Regions from separate parts of the Homo sapiens genome. Here regions 1, 2 and 3 are each linked to region 4. Evidence: fine-mapped expression QTL. A gene starts in region 4. Each other region holds a variant in brackets. All regions are shown on one strand. Distances are from middle to middle.

Region 1 (5,873 bases), 430 kb before region 4:
GAGACAGGCAACACTTCAAAGTTTGCTAGAGCTGAAGCAAACCTGAGATTTAAGGTGCCGTCTTGGGCAAAAGAGGTGGCACCGACCAAGTGGAAGAAAAATACATTCAACAGGTTTATTACAAAGAACTTTTAAGCAAACATACCAAAAAACAAAACAAGACAAGCAGAAGATTGGAATAAATAATTTTCCAATGCAAAGGCATAGATGTATATTCAAACAAACAACAGCAAACAGAGAATCATGACTTCCCCAAATGGATAAAGCAAGAAACCAGTGACTGACCCTAATGAGATGACAATTTGTGAGCTCTAAGAATTCAAAAATAGCCATTTTAAGAAAACTCAGTGATTTTTAAGATAATACAGAAAAGGAGAGAAGATTCAAGTAAACAAAATCAGAAATAATAAGGGATATATTACAACTGACACAACAAAAATACAAACAACCATCAGAGAATACTATAAACAACTTTATGCACATAAACCAGAAAATCTAAAATAAATGAATAAATTCCTGGATACATACACTCTCCCAAGACTGAACCAGGAAGAAAATGAATCCCTGAGTAGACCAAAAATGGTTCTGAAATTGTCAGTAATAAATACCCTGCAAACCAAATAAAGCCAAGGACTAGACAGATTCAAAGCTGAATTCCACCAGAGATGCAAAGAAGAGCTAGTACCATTTCTACTGAAACTATTTCAAAAAATTGAAAAGGAGTTACTCCTCCCTAACTCATTCTATGAGGCCAGCGTTATCCTGATACTAAAACCTAGCAGAGATACAACAAAAAAAAATTTCAGGCCAATATCCTTTATTAACATCAATGCAAAAATTATCAAAAAAAATACAGGCAAACCTAATTCAGAAGCACATCAAAAAATTTATCTACCATGATCAAGTAGGCTTCACCCCTGGGATGCAAGGTTGGTTCAATATCCACAAATCAATACATATGATTCATCACATAAACAGAAAAAAGGCAAAAACCACATGATTATCTCAATAGATGCAGAAAAGACCTTTGATAAAATTCAACAGCCCTTTAGGTTAAAAACTTTTAATAAACTAGGTATTGAAGGAACATAATTCTAAATAATAATATCTATAGAAAACAAACCCGCAGCCAATATCATACTGAATGGACAAAAGCTGGAAGCATTCTCCTTGAAAACTGGCACACGAAAAAGTTGCCCTCTCTAACCACTTCTATTCAACATAGTAGTAAAATTTCTGGCCAGGGAAATGAGGCAAGAGAAAGAAATAAAGGGTGTCCAAGTAGGAAGAGAGGAAGTCAAACAATCTTTGTTTGCAGATGACATAATCCTATATTTAGAAACCCCACTGTCTCAGCCCAAAAGCTTCTTAAGCTGATAAGCAACATCAGCAGAGTCTCAGGATTCAAAATCAATATGCAAAAATCACTAGCATTTCTATACATCAACAACAGGCAAACTAAGAGCCAAATGAAGATAAAGTCCCATTCACAATTGCCACAATAAGAATAAAATACCTAGAAATACTGCTAACAAGGGAAGTGAAGGACCTTTTCAAGGAGAACTACAAACCACTGCTGAATGGAATCAGGGATGACAAAAACAAATAGAACAGCATTTCATATTCATGGATAAAAGTATGCAATATTGTTACAATGGCCATACTACCCATTTACAGAATCAGTGCTATTCCCTTTAAACTTCCATTGACATTCTTCACAGAATTAGCGAAACCTATTTTAAATTTTATATGGGAAAAAAAAGAGCCTAAGTTGCCATTCTAAACAAAAACAACAAAGCTGGAGGCATCACTTTGTTGATACCTGATTTCAAACTATATTAAACAGCTACAATAACCAAAACAGCATGGCACTGGTACAAGAACAAATAAATAGACCACTGGAACAGAATAGAGAACTGAGATTTAAGTCTGCATACCTATAAACATCTGATCTTCAACAAATCTGATAAAAACAAGCAATGAGGAAAGGATACCCTATTTAATAAATGGTGCTGGGAAAACTGTATAGCGATATGCAGAAAATTGAAACAGGACCCGTTACTTAAAACTTATACAAGAACTGGCTTGGCACGGTGGCTCACACCTGTAATCCCAACACTTTGGGAGGCCAAGGGGGGGTGGATCACGAGGTCAGGAGATCGAGACCATCCTGGCTATCATGGTGAAACCCCATCTCGACTAAAAATACAAAAAAATAGCCAGGTGTGGTGGCGGGCGCCTGTAGTCCCAGCTATTTGGGAGGCTGAGGCAGGAGAATGGTGTGAACCTGGAAGGTGGAGCTTGCAGCGAGCCAAGATCATGCCACTGCACTCCAGCCTGGGCGACA[G/T]AGTGAGACTCTGTCTCAAAAACAAAAACATAAAAATAAACAAACAAAAAAAAAACAAGAACTGCCTCAAGATGGATTAAAGATTTAAATATAAAACCCAGAACTATAAAAACCCTAGAAGAAAACCGAGGCAATACCATTCAGGACATAGGCATGGGCAAAGATTTCATGGCAAAGGTATCTAAAGCAATTTCATCAAAAGCAAACATTGACAAATGGGATATGATTAAACTAAAGAGCTTCTGCACAGCAAAAGAAACTATCAAGAGAGTAAGCAGACCTACAGAATAGGAGAAAATTTCTGCAATCTATGCATCTGACAAATGTCTAATATCTAGCATCTATAAGAAACTTAAATTTACAATAAATAAAACAACCCCATTAAAAAGTGCACAAAGAACATAAACAGATACGTCTCAAAAAAATTCACGTGGCCAACAAACATATAAAACAAAGCTCAACATCACTGATTGTTACCATGGAATATTATGCAGCCATAGAAAAAAATGAGCTTATGTGCTTTGCAGTAACACGAACAGAGCTTGAGGCCATTATCCTTAGGAAACTAAGCAGAAACAGAAAACCAAATATTGCATGTTCTCACTTATAAGTGAGAGCTGAATGTTGAGAACACATGAACACAAGGGGGAAAAAATACACACTGGGACCCATCGGAGGCTGGAGAGTGGAGGGAGGGGAGTATCAAGAAAAATAGCTGATGGATGCTGGATTTAATACTTGGGTGATGGGATGATCTGTGCAGCAAACCACCATGGCATATGTTTACTATGCAACAAACCTTCACATCCTGCACATATACCCTTGAACTTAAGATTAAAAGTCGGATAAATAAATAAATAAAATGCATAAAGTGGCTGAAAGGATATACTAAAGACTCAACTGTATGCTGCCTAAAGAATCCCAACTTGCCTATAAAGACATACATAGACTGAAAATAAAGGAATCAAGAAAGATATTTCATGCAAATGGAAACCAAAAAAGAGCAGGAGGAGCTTTACTTGCATAAGATAAAATATACTAAAAGTCAAAGGCTGTGAAAAGTGATAAAAGGCCATTATATAATAATAAAAAGGGAAATTTAGCAAGCAGATACAGTAATATTAATTGGCCTTGCACTCAACACCAGAGTACCCAAGTATGTAGAGCAAACGTTAATATATCTAAAGGAAGAGATAGATTGTAGTACAGCAATGGTAGATGTCTTCAACAGCTCATTCTCAATAATGGACAGATAATCTAGACAGAAAATTTTAAAAAATCACAGTTAAACTATATTCTAGACAAAAAAAAAAAAAAAACCTTGCTGAGATTTACAGAATATTTCAACTAAATGCTACAGAATACATATTCCTATCAGCACATGGAGCATCCTCCAGAGTAGACCTTATGTTAGGACACAAACATGTTGAACAAATATGAAAAAGTAGAAATTATATTATATATATTTTCTGACCACAATGGAATCAAATTAGAAATAAATAAACTTTGGAAACTACACAAACATATAGAAATCAAACAACATGTTCCTGAAGGTCAACAAGTCAAAGAAAAAAGTAAGAAAAAAATTTAAGAGGAAGTCAAATTGTCCCTGTTTGCAGATGACATGATTGTATATCTAGAAAACCCCATTGTCTCAGCCCAAAATCTCCTTAAGCTGATAAGCAACTTCAGCAAAGTCTCAGGATACAAAATCGATGTACAAAAATCACAAGCATTCTTATACACCAACAAAAGACAAACAGAGAGCCAAATCATGAGTGAACTCCCATTCACAGTTGCTTCAAAGAGAATAAAATACCTAGGAATCCAACTTACAAGGGATGTGAAGGACCTCTTCAAGGAGAACTACAAACCACTGCACAAGGAAATAAAAGAGAATACAAACAAATGGAAGAACATTCCATGCTCGTGGGTAGGAAGAATCAATAACGTGAAAATGGCCATACTGCCCAAGGTAATTTACAGATTCAATGCCATCCCCATCAAGCTACCAATGACTTTCTTCACAGAATTGGAGAAAACTACTTTCAAGTTCATATGGAACCAAAAAAGAGCCCACATTGCCAAGTCAATCCTAAGCCAAAAGAACAAAGCTGGAGGCATCATGCTACCTGACTTCAAACTATACTACAAGGCTATAGTAACCAAAACAGCATGGTACTGGTACCAAAACAGAGATATAGATCAATGAAACAGAACAGAGCCCTCAGAAATGACGCTGCATATCTACAACTATCTGATCTTTGACAAACCTGACAAAAACAAGCAATGGGGAAAGGATTCCCTATTTAATAAATGGTGCTGGGAAAACTGGCTAGCCATATGTAGAAAGCTGAAACTGGATCCCTTCCTTACACCTTATACCAAAATCAATTCAAGATGGATTAAAGACTTAAACGTTAGACCTAAAACCATAAAAACCCTAGAAGAAAACCTAGGCATTACCATTCAGGACATAGGCATGGGCAAGGACTTCATGTCTACAACACCAAAAGCAATGGCAACAAAAGTCAAAATTGACAAATGGGATCTAATTAAACTAAAGAGCTTCTGCACAGCAAAAGAAACTACCATCAGAGTGAACAGGCATCCTACAAAATGGGAGAAAATTTTTGCAATTTACTCATCTGACAAAGGGCTAATATCCAGAATCTACAATGAACTCAAACAAATTTACAAGAAAAAAACAAACAACCCCATCAAAAAGTGGGCAAAGGACATGAACAGACGCTCCTCAAAGGAAGACACTTATGCAGCCAACAGACACATGAAAAAATGCTCACCATCACTGGCCATCAGAGAAATGCAAATCAAAACCACAATGAGATACCATCTCACACCACTTAGAATGGCAATCATTAAACAGTCAGGAAACAACAGGTGTTGGAGAGGATGCGGAGAAATAGGAACACTTTTTCACTGTTGGTGGTACTGTAAGCTAGTTCAACCATTGTGGAAGTCAGTGTGGCGATTCCTCAGGGATCTAGAACTAGAAATACCATCTAACCCAGCCGTCCCATTACTGGGTATATACCCAAAGGACTATAAATCATGCTGCTATAAAGACACGTGCACACTTACATTTATTGTGGCATTATTCACAATAGCAAAGACTTGGAAGCAACCCAAATGTCCAACAATGATAGACTGGATTAAGAAAATGTGGCACATATACACCATGGAATACTGCAGCCCTAAAAAATGATGAGTTCATGTCCTTTGTGGGGACATGGATGAAATTGGAAATCATCATTCTCAGTAAACTATCACAAGAAGAAAAAAACAAACACCGCATATTCTCACTCATAGGTGGGAATTGCACAATGAGAACACATGGACACAGGAAGAGGAATATCACACTCTGGGACTGTTGTGGGGTGGGAGGAGGGGGGAGGGATAGCATTGGAAAATATACCTAATGCTAAATGACGAGCTAGTGGGTGCAGTGCACCAGCATGGCAGATGTATACATATGTAACTAACTTGCACATTGTGCACATGTACC
Region 2 (5,873 bases), 140 kb after region 4:
CTAAATGCTCCAATTAAAAGACACTGACTAGCAAATTGGATAAAGAGTCAAGACCCATCAGTGTGCTGTATTCACGAAACCCATCTCACATGCAGAGATACACATAGGCTCAAAATAAAGGGATGGAGGAAGATCTACCAAGCAAATGGAAAACAAAAAAGGGCAGAGGTTGCAATCCTAGTCTCTGATAAAACAGACTTTAAACCAACAAAGATCAAAAGAGACAAAGAAGACCATTACATAATAGAAAAGGGATCAATTCAACAAGAAGAGCTAACTATCCTAAATACATATGCACCCAATACAGGAGCACCCAGATTCATAAAGCAAGTCCTTAGTGACCTACAAAGAGACTTAGAATCCCACACAATAATAATGGGAGACTTTAACACCCCACTGTCAACATTAGACAGATCAATGAGACAGAAAGTTAACAAGGATATCCAGGAATTCAACTCAGCTGTGCACCAAGTGCACCTAATAGACACCTACAGAACTCTCCACCCCAAATCAACAGAATATACATTCTTTTCAGCACCACATCACACCTGTTCCAAAATTGACCACATAGTTGGAAGTAAAGCAATCCTCAGCAAATGCAAAATAAGAGACATTATAACAAACTGTCTCTGAGACCACAGTGCAATCAAACTAGAACTCAGGATTAAGAAACGCTCTCAAAACCGTTCAACTACATGTAAACTGAACAACCTGCTCCTGAATGACTACTGTGTAGATAACAAAATGAAGGCAGAAATAAAGATGTTCTTTGAAACCAATGAGAACAAAGACACAACACACCAGAATCTCTGGGACACATTTAAAGCAGTGTGTAGAGAGAAATTTATAGCACTAAATGCCCACAAGAGAAAGGAGGAAGGATCCAAAATTGACACCCTAATATCACAATTAAAAGAAGTAGAAAAGCAAGAGCAAACACATTCAAAAGCTGGCAGAAGGCAAGAAATACCTAAAATCAGAGCAGAACTGAAGCAAATAGAGACAAAAAAAAATCCCTTCAAAAAATTAATGAATCCAGGAGCTGTTTTTTTGAAAAGATCAACAAAATTGATAGACCGCTAGCAAGACTAGTAAAGAAGAAAAGAGAGAAGAATCAAATAGATGCAATAAAAAATGACAAAGGGGATATCACCACCGATCCCACAGAAATACAAACTACCATCAGAGAATACTATGAACACCTCTATGCAAATAAACTGGAAAATCTAGAAGAAATGGATAAATTCCTCGACACATACACCCTCCCAAGACTAAACCAGGAAGAAGTTGAATCTCTGAATAGACCAATAACAGGCTCTGAAATTGTGGCAATAATCAATAGCTTACCAACCAAAAAAAGTCCAGGACCAGATGGATTCACAGCCGAATTCTACCAGGGGTACAAGAAGGAGCTGGTACCATTCCTTCTGAAACTATTCCCATCAATAGAAAAACAGGGAATCCTCCCTAACTCATTTTATAAGGCCAGCATCATCCTGATACCAAAGCCGGGCAGAGACACAACCAAAAAAGAGAATTGTAGACCAATATCCTTGATGAACACTGATGCAAAAATCCTCAATAAAATACTGGCAAAACGAATCCAGCAGCACATCAAAAAGCTTATCCACCATGATCAAGTGGGCTTCATCCCTGGGATGCAAGGCTGTCAACATACGCAAATTAATAAATGTAATCCAGCATATAAACAGAACCAAAGACAAAAACCACATGATTATCTCAATAGATGCAGAAAAGGCCTTTGACAAAATTCAACACCTCTTCATGCTAAAAACTCTCAATAAATTAGGTATGACGGGACATATCTCAAAATAATAAGAGCTATCTATGACAAACCCACAGCCAGTATCATACTGAATGGGCAAAAACTGGAAGCATTCCCTTTGAAAACTGGCACAAGACAGGGATGCCCTCTCTCACCACTCCTATTCAACTAGTGTTGGAAGTTCTGGCCAGAACAATGAGGCAGGAGAAGGAAATAAAGGGCATTCATTTAGGAAAAGAGGAAGTCAAATTGTCCCTGTTTGCAGATCACATCACTGTATATCTAGAAAATCCCATTGTCTCAGCCCAAAATCTCCTTAAGCCGATAAGCAACTTCAGCAAAGTCTCAGGGTACAAAATCAATGTACAAAAATCACAAGCATTCTTATACACCAATAACAGACAAACAGAGCCAAATCATGAGTGAACTCCCATTCACAATTGCTTCAAAGAGAATAAAATACCTAGGAATCCAACTTACAAGGGATGTGAAGGACCTCTTCAAGGAGAACTACAAACCACTGCTCAATGAAATAAAAGAGGATACAAACAAATGGAAGAACATTCCATGCTCATGGGTAGGAAGAATCAATATCGTGAAAATGGCCTTAATGCCCAAGGTAATTTATAGATTCAATGCCATCCCCATCAAGCTACCAATGACTTTCTTCATAGAATTGGAAAAAACTACTTTAAAGTTCATATGGAACCAAAAAAGAGCCTGCATCACCAAGTCAATCCTAAGCCAAAAGAACAAAGCCGGAGGCATCATGCTACCTGACTTCAAACTATACTACAAGGCTACAGTAACCAAAACAGCATGGTACTGGTACCAAAACAGAGATATAGACCAATGAAACAGAACAGAGCCCCCAGAAATAATGCCGCATATCTACAACTATCTGATCTTTGACAACATT[G/C]TATCCAACAGCTGCAGAATGTACATTCTATTCATCAGCACGTGGAAAATTCTATGTAATAGGCTATATGATAGGCCAAAAAGAAGTCTCAACAAATTCTTAAAAATTGAAATTACATCAAGTACTCTCTCAGACTAGAGTGGAATAAAACTAGAAATCAACTCCAAAAGAAATCTTCAAAACCATGAAAATACATGGAAATCAAATAACCTGCTCCTGAATGATCACTGGGTAAACAATGAAATCAAGATGAAAATTAAAATATTCTGTGAACTGAATGATAATAGTGAAAGAACCTATAAATTTCTGGGATACAGCAAAAGTGATGCTAAGAGGAAAGCTGATAGCGTTAACCTACGTCAAAAAGTGTGAAAGAGCACAAATAGACAATGTTCCTAATGTCACACCTCAAGGAACTAGAGAAACAAAAACAAACCAAAACCAAACACAGCAGAAGAAAAGAAATAACCAAGATCAGAGCGGAATGAAATGTAATTGAATTAAACAAAACATTACAAAAGAAAAATGAAACAAAAAGCTGGTTCTTTTAAAAGATAAATAAAATTGATAAACCACTGGCAACATTAACCCAGAAAAGAAGAGAGAATATCCAAATAAGCTCAATTAGAAATGAAATGGGGGATATTACAACCGACACCACAGAAATACAAAAGATCATTCAAGGCTGCTATGAACTTGCGCATAAACTAGAAAACCTAGAGGAGATGAATAAATGCCTGAAAAGATACAAATCTTGTAGCTTAAATCAGGAAGAATTAGAAACCCTGAACAGACCAATAACAAGCAGCAAGATTGAAATGGCAATTTAAAAATTACCAACAAGAAAAAAAGTTCAGGATGGGACAAATTCACAGCTGAATTCTATCAGACATTGAAAGAACATAGGTACAAATCCTATTGGCACTATTCCACAAGATAAAGAGAGAATCCTTCCTAAATCATTCTGTGAAGTGAGTATCACCCTAACACCAAAACCGGGAAAAGACATAACCAAGAAAGGAAACTACAGACCAATATCCCTGACTAATATAGATACAAAAATCCTTAACAAAATGCTAGCTAACCAAGTCCAGCAGCATATCAAAAACATAATCCACCATGATCAAGTGGGCTTCATACTAGGGAATCAGGGATGGTTTAGCATAAGCAAGTCAATAAATGTGATACACCCCATAAACAGAATTAAATACAAAAATCACCTGATTGTCTCAATAGATGAAGAAAAAGCATTTGACAAAAGCCAGCAGCACTTTATGATTGAAATCCTCAGCAAAATCAGCATAGAAGAGACATACCTGAATGTAATAAAAGCCATCTATGGCAAACACACAGCCAACATTATACTGAATGGAGAAAAGTTGAAAGCATTTCCTCTGAGAACTGGAACAAGACAAGGATGCCCACTCTCACCACTTCTGTTCAACATAGTACTGGAAGTCCTAGCAAGAGCAATCAGACAAGACAAAGAAATAAATGCTGTCCATATTGGTAAAGAGGAAGTCAAACTGCCACTATTTGCTGATGATATGATCAGATACCTAGAAAACCCTAAAGACTTTCAAAAAGCTCCAAGAACTGATAAATGAATTCAGCAAAGTTTCAGGATACAAAATTAATGTACACAAATCAGTAGCTCTGCTATACACCAACAGTGACCAAGCTGAGAATCAAATCAAGAACTCAATCCCTTTCACAATTGCCACAAAGTAAATAAAATACTTACAAATATACATAACTCAGAGGGTGAAAGACCTCTACAAGGAAAACTACAAAACACTGCTGAAAAAAGTCACAGATAACACAAACAAATGGAAATACATCCCATCCTCATGGATGGGGAAAATCAATATTGTGAAAAAGACCATACTGTTAAAAGCAACCTACAAATGTAATGCAATTCTCATCAAAATGACACCATCATTCTTCACAGAACTAGAAAAAACAACCCTAAAATTCATATGGAACCAAAAAAAGAGCCTGCATAACCAAAGGAGGACTAAGCAAAAAAAGAAAAAAAAAAATTTGGAGGCATCACATTACCCAACTTCAAACTATACTATAAGGCCATAGTCACCAAAACAGCATGATACTGGTATAAAAACAGGCACATAGACCAATGGAACAGAACAGAGAACCCAGAAATAAACCTAAATGCCTACAGCCAACTGAACTTCAACAAAGCAAACAAAAACATAAAGTGGGAAAAGGACAGCCTATTCAACAAATGGTGCTGGCATAATTGGCAAGCCACATGTAGGAGAATGAAACTAGATCCTCATCTCTCACTTTATACAAAAATCAAGTCAAGGTGTATCAAGGACTTAAATCCAAGACCTGAAAGTGTAAAAATTATAGAAGACAACATTGGAGAAATCCTTCTAGACATTGGCTTAGGCAAAGACTTCATGACCAAGAACCCAAAAGCGAATGCAACTAAAACAAAAATAAATAAGTGGGACTTAATTAAACTAAAATGCTTCTGCACAACAAAAGGAACAGTCATCAGAGTAAACAGACAATGCACAGATTGGGAGAAAATCTTTACAATCTATCCATCCAACAGAGGACTAATATCCGGAATCTCCTGGGAACTCAAACAAATTAGCAAGAAAAAACAAATAACCTCATCAAAAAGCGGGGTAAGGACATAAATACACAATTCTCAAAAGAAGATATACAAATGGCCAACAAACATAAAAAATGATCAACATCACCAATGATCAGGGAAATGTTAATCAAAACCACAATGTAATACCACCTTACCCCCCCCCAAAAGAATGATCATAATCAAAAAACAAAAACTAATAGATGCTGGTATGGATGTGGTGAAAAGGGAACACTTCTACACTGCTGGTGGGAATGTAAACTAGTACAACCACTAGAAAAAACAGTGTGGAGATTCCTTAGGGAACTAAAAGTAGAACTAACATTTGATCCAGCAATCCCACTACCCACAGAAAAAGTCATTATACAAAAAAGATATCTGCACATGCATGTTTATAGCAGCACAATTCACAATTGCAAAAATGTGGAACCAGCCCAAATGTTCATCAATCAATGAGTGGATAAAGAAATTGTGGTGTGTGTGTGTGTGTGTGTGTATGCACACACATACATATACATACATATATATATATATATAGTGGA
Region 3 (5,873 bases), 140 kb before region 4:
TGTTTTAATTTGAGAGTGTTATAGTACATTTCTTTTTCAGGCTTTCTGCATCTATACGTTGATTTCTGAGCAACCAGGGGAATAGGGGATTGTTCTTATTTTTGAATTTACTTTCATTGAATGTGGAATTTTGTTCTTGAAGATATGACTATGATAATAACTACAACCATTTTTTAAGAGATAGTATAAAAAGAAATAAATGTTATAGTGCAAATGCACAAGAAACTGCAAGAGAAGTGGGGATGATTATTGAGTATAAAAAGAGAAGAAATAAGGTCTAGTGTTTGATAGCACAATTGGGTGACTATAGTTTAAAGTACTTTGTTGTATATTATAAAACAAGAGAGTGGAATTGGAAAGTTACACCACAAAGAAATAATAAATGTTTAAACTGTTGGATACTTCAGTTACAGATTTCATAACTACACATTGTATGTATGTGTCATAACATCTTATATATCCCATAAATACATACAACTATTATGTAGTCACAAAATTTAAAAATTTTAAATTAGGTTTGTAATTAAAAAAGAGCTACATTAACATAAAAAGTATGGGTTAGAAAATGGCCACATCCCTTTTCTACCTATTTTAAGTGATTATTAATGAGCAACATGGTAAAGTGGTTATGACCACCAGCTCTAAATCTGGCATCATAATCCCAGCTCTAAATCTGGTATCATAAAAAAGTAAGAGGAGAGCAGATTTTTCCCCCCTCTTTTTCTTTCCAGATTTGTAATTACAGGACCAGTTTTGACAGTCAGCATGTATGTTAACAGTTTATCCAAATTATAAGACAGTGTCTTCTGGAAGTGAACTGAAAATAAACTTTTTGTTTTTGATTTCAGCTTTAGTTTTGATCTAAAGTTCTGATTATAAACTTTCATCTCAGAGCCAAACCTCCTCCCCTTGTGAATTTGTATAAACGTTTTGTTCTGAGAGATTTCCAAAGTGTTTCTGCAAAGAAAACTGGGTATTTGAAAAAATTTTAAAAGTGACTTTTTTTTTTTTTAAGGTAGAGAGGGTCGTGTGAGTTCTGCCTTATGGAAGGGCTATTGTATGTGAGATATCTTATAAAAAATATTGTTAATCCACAAAATAAAGCTGTAAAATGGGTATCAATAGCTTAATTTTACGTATGAGTAAACTGCAGAATAGCTAAGTAACTTGCCCAAGATAACAAAACTAGGAGGTAGCCTGCACTTCAAATTTGGATGTGTCATGCTCTAACACAAATATTCCCATTGGCAGAAAACATTCCTATATTCACAAAAGTTAAATTCTCCAGAATGTTGAATTTATCTTATAGTTCTCAAAGTGTTCATATTAAAAGTCTTCAGCAAGCCTGAAAAAACCTGGCATAAGGGAAGCTTCTTTCACAAGTACCTGTATCAGCTTCTAATCATAGCAGATATGAAAAGGAAGGGAAAAATAAACAGGAGATGGGCAGATAGCTCTGTACATGTATTTTTAAAACATCTCAGGGGGAAGGTAAAGGTGGAACTTGACAACTGAAGTTACCTAATCACTTAAGGCTTTATTGAAACCTACATGTTCTGAGTACCTAGCATACAACATACTAAGATTAGCTTCATTCCCCTGTGTCCTTGTTCTTGCCGTGGTTTCCCCTCTGCCTGGCATAATCTTTATCTCTTCTCTACCTGGTTAAGGTTTCCAAATCATTCAAGATTTGGGAGACTGCAATTCCTCCATCAAGAAGCCTTCACTGATTTCCATATAGGAATGGGCACACTCTCTGTGAATAGCATATATGCCTATTCCGTATAGGCATTCACCAAACTGTGCTTTCTTTAAATATTTTACTATTTTACTTATTTTTTTCATGAGTTTCTTTTCTCTACACCTCTAACATATGGACCACAATAGAAGCTCAATAAATGTTTACACAAAGAAAAAAGTAAGTAAAGAAAGAGGTAAAAATACCTTCCCATCATGTCCCTTTGCTGACATCATTGCGATCCACAACTGAAAAGAGTACTTCATTTTCTTCAGTTTAACATGTTGAACTGAGGCTCCTAGAATAGTTTCAAGGTGAACCACAACCTTATAAAAGAAAGATATAAAAACAGACAAACATGATGAGAAGAGGAGATACTACTGAAGAGTGACATCAGCAAGATGGCAGAGCAGAAAGCGCCAGGCCCTCATTGCCCCATGGAAACACCAAAAAAAACAAAAAAACAAAAAAACAAAAAAACAAAAACAAAACAAAACACCCCAAAATATATAGAGCAAAGTAGTTTTGTGAGAACTCTTGAAACAAGCTAAGAAGCTGAAGCAACCAAGGAAATGCTAGAAAATTTCATGTCATTTCTGCTTGCCCTTGTCCCACTCCCTCTCTAACACAGCACTGAGTGTCTGAAAGAATCCATCAAATTATTGGTTCCTCCATTGGAATGAAAGAATATGAATGGAACTTGCTTGTAAAGTTCTAGCTTCTCTGGGGACAGTCTGAGGGACTGTTGTGTCTTTTCTGACTTGGAATACTAACTGGAATGATAGCATAGTTTAGACTGTAGGCTGGAAAATGCTTAGAGCAGTGGTGGAAGCTATTGCACAAATGGATTGCTGGGTTACTGCAGATATCTGG[G/A]TACCTGTGAGCAAGAGATTACATGCAGCGAAATAAAATACAACTTAAGCTCTGAGAAGAAGCAGAAGTAAGACACTGCTGATCATTGTTAGGACCCACCATACCACCCTTCTTTGCTTCTAGACCTATAACTAGACTCAAGTCTTGTCAGGTCATGTTTATTTTTCTAATTTATATAGACATAAATCCAGGGAATACGTATGACAATGGATATTAAAAGTATGGATAATTGTGGAAGAAACACAAACCTGAAACAGGCCAAATGTATTGATATGAGCCCAAGAAGGAGAGAGTCTCGATTTAGTGTTGCAGCTCAGTGTGTCAGAAAATACTCTAAAAAAAGTTTAGAAACACATAGACCAAAAGGTGTCCTACACTAAATGAAGTTGAAATTCCAGTCCTGCCTTGACATACTGTAGAGGAAAGAATCCAAATTCTTAGCGACATTTATCATTTAAGATCTTCTCCCCGACCTTGGGAGAGTACTGAGAACAATTCTTAGCCACAATTACGAGAAATAAATTTTTGTGGGAACCCTATCGTCTTTGAAGATCACTTTTCTCTGTAGGTCAGAAATTACATGGATTGATACCATTAAACTAAAAAAAATAAATTTAATAGAAATAATTGGATTCCCAAGTGGCAGGGGAAAAGTGGCAGCACTTAACTGACAAAAACTACATAAGCAGAAGAGTCAAAGCAGCAATCAGAATAATCTGACTGATGCAGACCTATGACATTGTTAGTTAATCATGTTTCTAGTAGTGAGACAGATAATAATTCCATTATATTCTTACTAAATCTGTATAAGCAGAGGAGTCCTAGGTCAATTGAACAAAATTCTAGCTTGTAACATAAAACAGAGTCATGGCCCTTCAATCAATTCCCAGGCTTGAGCCAGTTTACAGACTCACAACCCTTGAATGAAGGGAAGAATGGGTCCCCTGGAAGAAGCATCCCACCACACGCCCAACAACATATAATGTCAATCTTTCTCACAGCTTTCCCCAAAATAAATTATGGCATGGAAGAATTAGGGAAAAATAATCAGAAGTTTTGGAGAATATTGGACACAGGTCCTGAACTGATACTAATGCCAGGAGACCTAAAATGACACTATAGTCTACAATCAGAATAGTGGCTTATGGAGGTCAGGTGAACAATAGAGGTGTTTTTGTTTTTGTTTTAATATTTATAATTTAGGAGAAAGTAGTTTTGTTACATGGATATATTGCATAATGGTGAAGTCTGGGGTTTCAGTGTAGCCATCAACCTAATAATGTACATTGTATCCGCTAAGTAATTGTTCATCCTTCACCCCCTCTGATCCCTCCCATCCTTTTGAGTCTCCAGTGTCTATTATTTTACTCCTTATGTCCAGTTCTATACATTATTTAGCTCTCACTTATAAGTGAAAATATGTGGTATTTGCCTTTCTGTTTCCAAACCATTCACTTAAGACAATGGCCTCCAGTTCCATTGATGTTGCTGGAAAAAAAAAAATGACTTTATTCTCTTTTTTAATGGCTGAATACAATCCATTGTATATATACACCACATTTTCTTTATCCGATAATCCATTGATTGACAGTTTAGTTGATTCTATATCTTTTCTATTGTGAATAATGCTGGTATAAACACATGAGTGTAGATATCCTTTTGTATAAAATTTATTTCCCTTTGGTAGATAACCAGTAGTGGAATTATTGCATAGAATGGTAGTTCTATTTTTAATTCTTTGAGAACCCTATGTATTGTATTAATTACAAGTTATATTCATTAATATTTCTACTAAAGCTTATGAGTGCTTCCTTTTTTCTCCATACTTGCCAATATCTGTTATTTTTTGACTTCTTAGTAATAGCTACTGTGGTGTAATACAATAGCTAATCGAAATTTTAATTTGCATTTCATTGATTAATAATGTTAAGCAGTTTTTTATGTGTTTGTTGGCCATTTGTATGTCTTCTTTTGAAAAAGTCTGTTTATGCCATTTGCCTACATTTTAGCAGAATTTTTTTTTTTTTTTTTTGAGATGGAATCTCACTCTATGGCCCAGGCTGGAGTGTAGTGGCGTCATCTGGGCTCACTGCAAGCTCCACCTCCCAGGTTCACGCCATTCTCCTGCCTCAGCCTCCCAAGTAGCTGGGACTACAGGCACCCGCCACCACGCCCAGCTAATTTTTTTTTTGTATTTTTAGTAGAGATGGGGTTTCACCGTGTTGGCCACGGTGGTCTCGATCTCCTGACCTCGTGATCCGCCCACCTCGGCCTCCCAAAGTGCTGGGATTACAGGCGTGAGCCACTGCACCTGGCCTTGGCAGAATTATTTGTTGTTGTTGAGATGTCTGAGTTCTTTGTGGAACCTAGTTATTAATATTTTATTGGATGTATTGTTTGTAAATAGTTTATTCCATTCTGCACGTTGTCTGTTTATTTTGTTGATAATTTCTTTTGTTGTAAAGAAGCACTTTAGTTTAAGTCCCATTTGTCTATTTTTGGTATTGTGCATTTGTTTTTAAGGTCTTTGTCATGATGTCTTTGCCAAAAATGATGTTCAGAATAGTTTTCCCTGTTTTCTTCCTGTATTTTTATAGTTTTGGTCTTACACTTAAGCCTTTAATACATTTGTGATAATTTTTGCATATGGTGAGAGATACAGGTCCATATTTATTCTTCTGTGTATGGCCACCTAATTTTCCAAGAACCCTTTTTGAATAGGATGTTGTTTTCACAGCCTATCTTTTGTTGACTTTATCGAAGACCAGTTGGCTGTAGTTATGTGGCTTAATTTCTGGGTTCTCTCTTCTATTCTTTTGATCTATGTGTCTATTTTTATACCAATACCATGCTGTTGTAGTTTCTATGGCTTTGTAATATAATTTGAAATTAGGTAATGTGATGCATCCGACTTAGTTCCTTTTGCATAGGATTGTTTTGGCTATGCAAGCTCTTTTGTGGTTCCATATGAATTTGGTGATTTTTTTCTAATTCTGTGCAAAATTACATTGGTATTTTGATGAGAATTGAAATGAATCTGTAGATTGCTTTAGATAATATAGACATTTTAATGATATTCATTCCTCTTATTCAAGAGCATAAGATTTTTTCAATTTATTTTTGTCATCTCAAATTCCTTTAATCAGTGTTTGATAGTTTTCCTTGTAGGTATTTTTCACTTCCTTGGTTAAATGCATTCCAGATATTTTATTTTTACAGCTATTGTAAATGCTAACAAACTGACAACTTGATTTGGTTCTAA
Region 4 (5,873 bases):
ATTCCCTTCTCCCCTCTCTTCAGCTCTCTCTCCCTTCTTCACACAAAAGGAATCATATTATATTCATTGTTCAGTACCTTATATTTTTACCACGTAACATAATTCAGAACTATTTACGTATCTGTTCCTTTAGATCAACTTCATACTTATTTTTTATTACTTATCTAAAAACTGAAAATACTTTTTTCTAATTTTCTAAAGTATTGATTATATTTATTATAAATAGGTAACATGAGCACACGTTTCAAAAATCTGAAAGTAAAAAAGATCATGCAATGAAGCCTCTTTCCACCCTTGTCTCCTAACAAAGGAGATGAATAAAGGGTGGGACTTACGGTTTCAAAACCTCATTGACTTTCGGATCATCAACAAAATCAAATATCCAAATGACCAGGCTATGTATGATGGTGGCCATAAGTTGATGTATTTTTGGCAAGGCCCAACCTTGGATACCAACTGAGGCTGTGGAGGTTCAGAAGACATAGTGGTAGCCTGAATTCTGAATAATAGAAGAGTAATCATAGGGACACAAAAGCAAGCAAAAGACAGTAGACACTGACTCACAGGAAACTGACTGTTCAATCAGAGCTCGTTATCAAGAAGCATACTCTTCCATAAAGTGCCAACAAAAATTGAGTAAGATTTACCTGGCTCTACCACTTTCTAGCTGTGTGGCATTGGACAAGCTATTAGAAAGCTCTAAACTTTATTTTCCTTCTCTGTAAGATGATGATAATCATATGTACCTCAAAATGTCATTATGAAGATTCAATTTACAAAAATCTAAGTAAAATGTTTGCCTTATCAAGTGGCACATGGTAGGTGTTTAAGAAATTTAGTTGTTTTGCAGTAACAATATTTCCATGTTTAAAAATGTCAGAAACTAAGGGATAAATAAAACTTTGTATCCACTCCACTTCTCCCCTTCAGAACATTTTTATAAATCTAGATAAACTATATCTAGATCATCTCATCTCATGGGCAAGCATGAATAAAAAATGGCTAGTTACCAAAAACTTGATGATAGTAATAATAGTAATAGTTAACATTTATATAGGATTAGTATGCCAGACAATATTCTATAAGTTTTACATATATGAATTCATTTAATTCATCACAATAACTCTAAAAGGTAGATTCTATTATCAAATCCATTTTTCTTAAAGGACATCAGAGACACAAAAAGTTAAGAAATGCTTTTAAGGCCGGGCGCAGTGGCTCACACCTGTAATTCCAGCACTTTGGGAGGCCGAGGTGGGTGGATCACGAGGTCCGGAGATCAAGACCATCCTGGCTAACTCGATGAAAACCCGTCTCTACTAAAAAATACGAAATATTAGCCGGGCATGGTGGCGGGCGCCTGTAGTCCCAGCTACTCGGGAGGCTGAGGCAGGAGAATGGCGTCAACCCGGGAGGCGGAGCTTGCAGTGAGCGAAGATCGCACCACTGCACTCCAGCCCAGGCGACAGAGCGAGACTCCGTCTCAAAAAAAAAAAAAAAAAAAAAAAAAAAAAGAAATGTTTTTAAGATCACAGAGCTAGATCGTAGAAAAGCTAGGATTTCTGAACCCAGGGAGTCTGACTCTAGAGTCCATCCTTCTAATCATTATGTTACACAATCTTCTATGTGCCAGGTTCTTGATATGTATTATCTGCTATTGGTGTGGCACAAGGTCACAGAGCCATGAACAGACAGTCCAAAATTTGAAATATATCATCTTTCTACTATTAGGTTGGTGCAAAAGTAATTGTGATTTTTGCCATTAAAAGTAATGTCAAAATCTCAATTACAAAATCACAATTACTTTTGCACCAACCGAATACATCCCATTGCCTCCCTAACTGGTAGAAAAGCATGCATGAGTGGGTAGAGGCTGGGGAGGGGGTACGGCAAGAAGACAGGATATGTCTTTGAAAGGTAACCAGGAGTACAATACAAATATTAATAATTCATACATTCAGGAGCACATACTGAGATAGTATTTGCTGCATGCCTATTCTTTGTTAAGTAGTATTGTAGATTCTGGAAATAAAGCAATGACGAAAAACAAATGAAACAGCAGAGAGGTGAAAACAAGCAGAGTATAAATAAACAATACTAGACTGTAGCTCAAGATCTCCAGGTAACCAATCACTTATATGACAGAGATGAATAGTCCTGCCTGCACAATTCTATAGAGAACGAATGAGCTGCTTAATTTTTTTAATTTAGAACTTTCAACAATTTTTGTGCAAATCATTTTACTTCAGTTTCCTTATGCATAAAATATGAATATTGCCTATATAACTGCATCCGTGAAATAGAATATGTTTAAGTACCCAGGCAGAGTATTTCACATATACTATGCAATAAATATATGGTAGACGCAGCTTTTACTATCCTAGACCAAGTACTACTTTTACTTTAAATCAATTTTAAAAAGAATTGGTTGAATGGTAAGCAGCAGGTTGATCTGGGGCCTGTGAGAGACGGAAGAATAGAGAGAGAGAAAGGGAGAGGGAGAGAGAAAGAGAGAGACTGACTTTCCATAGCTGAGAATCAGTTTGAAATTCACACCTGCTTTACCCCACACACAGTAATTATGCACAAATAGGACAAATGGATAGGAAGGACTATGACGGTACCAAAATAGTCCAACCCATGCCCACAGTAAATGTCCTTGGTAAAAATAAACGTACTACAACACCCAGAAGTCTCCCTTCATCCCCAATAAATGCCTCTCCTAAGTCGCCCTAGTAGAGAATGGAAAGGAAACCACAACCACCGCCACCACTAAGCTTCCTGGATCCTGCTAAAAGACCTGTCCCTCCAGCCTCTTCTGAATTGCATTCTCACCTTTCTCTGTCGGATCAGCTTGGCCAGCTGCATCCCCGAAAGCAGAAGCAATGGTTCAGTCACCGGCCGAGGGGTCTTTGAGGCAAACTTTGGACCCCCTAAGACTAAAGCTGCTCGGCCTACTAAGCCTATGAGAAAGCCTAGCGCCCGCAAGAGGAACAACTGAATGCGGGCGGTAAATGAAGGTGCCATCGCAGCCTGGATTCCGCACGGTCCTAGTGCTTGAGGGTTACGTGCACCCTGGGGAAAGGACGAGAAAAGTACTAAGCAAAGAGGGACTTATGAAGCTTTTCGTTTACAAGTCCAGTGTCTACCCACAATTCCACAGGAGCTTGTTTATCATCACCTGCAGGGCTCCTAGCCAGAGATGGGGGCGGAGACTTCCCAGCAGCTGCCTGTGTGCAATGCTACCTGTCGTTAGTGCTGTTGTAACCCAAGACAGAAAATGCGTCATAAGAAAGAACACTGGCCTTGGAATTCCCCAGTTCTGCTACTGTGTAGCCCTGGCCAACCTACACTATATCTCCTAGTCAGTTTACTCATAAGAAAAAAAATGGGAATAACTACTCCTATATCAAAGGGTTACCATAAACACTAGATAATAAGTAAAAACATTTAGCACAATTTATGGTAAATAGTATAAGTGGTAGTTGTTATAGTTTATTTCAGCTGTGCTTGTGAAAAAAGTGTTGTAAGTATACCTTTGTATGCAAATATTCAGTATGCTCAACAAACAACTAAATGGCAAGTATATATATATTTTCCATATGCATATTATTTAATCCTTATAAGATCACTAACAGGTAGTACTGATGAACATCAAATCTCCAGCCCATCTGTCTCCTAAACTGGACACTTGAAATGCCTTTTTTGACATATCCATGTGAATGTCTTCCAGATCGTTCAAACTCAACAAGTCCAAAACTCATCCTTTTGTCCCCCAGACTGCTGCCCCTACAGGTCTACAAATGGAATTTTCATCCACCCAGTCAGCCATGCCAAAAATCTAGAATCACTTCAGATTCTTCCATTTCTCTTATTCTCATGACAGAATCCAGCCCTTCCTTCTCAACTCAGTCTGGCTCAGATCTCACTGAGGTTTACATGAACTTCTACAAATAATCTAGCTGATCACTCTGCCTTTATTTATAGAGTGTTCTTTCTAATATGTAAATCTGACAATATTACACCCCTGCCAATAACTCCGCAATAATTCTCCATTTTCCACAGATTCAAGACCCATCTACTTTGTCCAGCATTCGACTCTCATGACTGGTGTCTGAAAAACTCTATGCTTCATCCCTAACCCCTTCTATCCCTCACATGCTAAGCTCCTGACAAACAACTATCCGAAAGTTCTCTCTTCCCTCCTTATCTTTGCATCTGCTTTCCCAACCTCTTCATCTAGTTCAGGACAAGTACCACCTCCTCCAGTAAGTCTTCCCTGAACTTACAACTGGGTGTGATGCCACTCTTTTGTAACCCTGCACTCCACAGATTAACAAAATCATAGCACTTACAACCCTCTGTTATGTGTTAGGTTTTTGTGTCTATGCCCCATCTAGATATAAACTCCTCGAAGAACAGGGTCATTCTAATTCCTCTTTGTATTGCCAGAGCCTGACATAGGGCTTGATGAGAAGTCAATACAGGTTTGTAGGCTGAAGGTATGTGATTATGAGATAATGAGCGTTGAAGATAGGGATTCGAGCTTGGCATTTAAGGTCTTGGGTAGGTGAAATGACAACGTCATCCAGGTCACTGTCTTTTCACCTGCAGAACTTAGGTTGATACTGAAAGTGTCATCACAGCACTTCTAGCCTAATTCAAGCACCTGGTAGAAAGCAGGTTAATCATGACAGGCACATCTAGCAGATCCAGTAAAGAAAGCTGATAAAGCAGGTTGTCATAATCTAGGCTCCATTACAGTTCTGAGCAAAACCTGTTAGCTGAGTGAAACTTCCTTACCAGAGAAAGGTTTTGTCAAAATGAAAATATTTACTTTGCCCAACTTTTGTTACTTTATTTAAGTTGTAAATGACAAATATGTGAGCCTGAGGTACAAAGAATGCTCACTGATTGGGCTCTGACCAGACAGACCTGAATCCAAATCCTAGATCCAGCACTCATTATGTTTTTGACCTTGAACAAATCACTTAATGTCCCTAGGTGTGTTTTCTCATCTGTAAAGTAGAATAACAGCTGCCATATGGTGTTATGAAGATTAAATCACATATGGATGTAAAGCTTCTGTTTTTTTTTTACAATCTTAAATATTTTAATTTTATATTAATAGTTAGACCATGTTAAGTATATTGCCATTGTTGGCAACATATCACCAGAACATTTTTATCTTGCAAAATGAATACATACTATACATGAATCGACTACCTGTTTTCCCCATTGACTGGCCCTTTACAAATGCCATTCTATTTTCTCTTTTTAAAAGTGCAACTACTTTAGCTAACTCGTATAAGTGGATTCATACTTTTTATGATGGACTTATTACACTTATCATAAGACCATTAAGATTTATCTTTAAAATAAATGTTAAATTTCCTGCTTTTTAAAAGCTGAATAATATTCCAGGTTTTGTTGTTGTTGTTGTTGTTGTTGTTGTTTTGTTTTGTTATGATATGGTGTCTCATTCTGTCGCCCAGGCTGGAGCGCCACTGGAGTGCAGTGGCACCATCTTGGCTCATTGCAACCTTTGCCTCCCGGGTTCAAGTGATTCTCCTGCCTCAGCCTTCCAAGTAGCTGGTATTATAAGCACCCACCACCATGCCCAGATTGCAGGCTTTCTTCCCGGGCACGCCGCAGGATAAGGCCCATTAGCTTGGGACACTAACAAGGCTACCCCAGCCCTGCCTGAGTTCTCAGGCTGGAAGCAGCTCCACACTTCCCTGGGACAGAGCTCCCAGAGGGAGCAGGCAAGCTGACGTTTTTCCACGCTCATGTTCTCATCAGGCTCTGGAGGTAGTATAGAAGTTGGGGACTGACGCGAACCCACAGCACAGCGCAGTCACCTTAAAGGAAAA

Alleles and levels. Alleles are on the strand shown, and positions count from the first base shown. SD is a standard deviation of normalised expression in the study named. Not every link is listed here.
For the expression in stomach of the gene that starts at base 3,147 in region 4, allele G in region 1 goes with a lower level than allele T (small effect, 0.29 SD a copy in GTEx).

Evidence for each region. PIP is the estimated chance that this variant, and not a neighbour inherited with it, causes the effect.
Region 1: its variant is the best candidate, but not a certain one, in a credible set for the expression of FAAH2 in stomach (GTEx, PIP 0.76).
Region 2: its variant is the best candidate, but not a certain one, in a credible set for the expression of FAAH2 in lung (TOPMed, PIP 0.71).
Region 3: its variant is the best candidate, but not a certain one, in a credible set for the expression of FAAH2 in whole blood (TOPMed, PIP 0.68).

What each region holds. Positions count from the first base shown.
Region 1 is chrX:57,717,814-57,723,686 of GRCh38, reverse strand. No RefSeq gene overlaps it. Among named protein-coding and RNA genes, the nearest start is that of NLRP2B, 40 kb to the right of the region's middle. The variant G/T (reference allele first, on the strand shown) is at 2,348.
Region 2 is chrX:57,144,878-57,150,750 of GRCh38, reverse strand. It overlaps a transcript of FAAH2 not described here and a transcript of SPIN2A not described here. Among named protein-coding and RNA genes, the nearest start is that of SPIN2A, 10 kb to the right of the region's middle. The variant G/C (reference allele first, on the strand shown) is at 2,706.
Region 3 is chrX:57,428,109-57,433,981 of GRCh38, reverse strand. It overlaps FAAH2 (fatty acid amide hydrolase 2), which reads right to left. Exons shown (of 11, transcript NM_174912.4): 8 at 1,945-2,064. Among named protein-coding and RNA genes, the nearest start is that of FAAH2, 140 kb to the right of the region's middle. The variant G/A (reference allele first, on the strand shown) is at 2,612.
Region 4 is chrX:57,283,980-57,289,852 of GRCh38, reverse strand. It overlaps FAAH2 (fatty acid amide hydrolase 2), which reads right to left and starts at 3,147. Exons shown (of 11, transcript NM_174912.4): 1 at 2,836-3,147. The coding sequence starts at 3,027.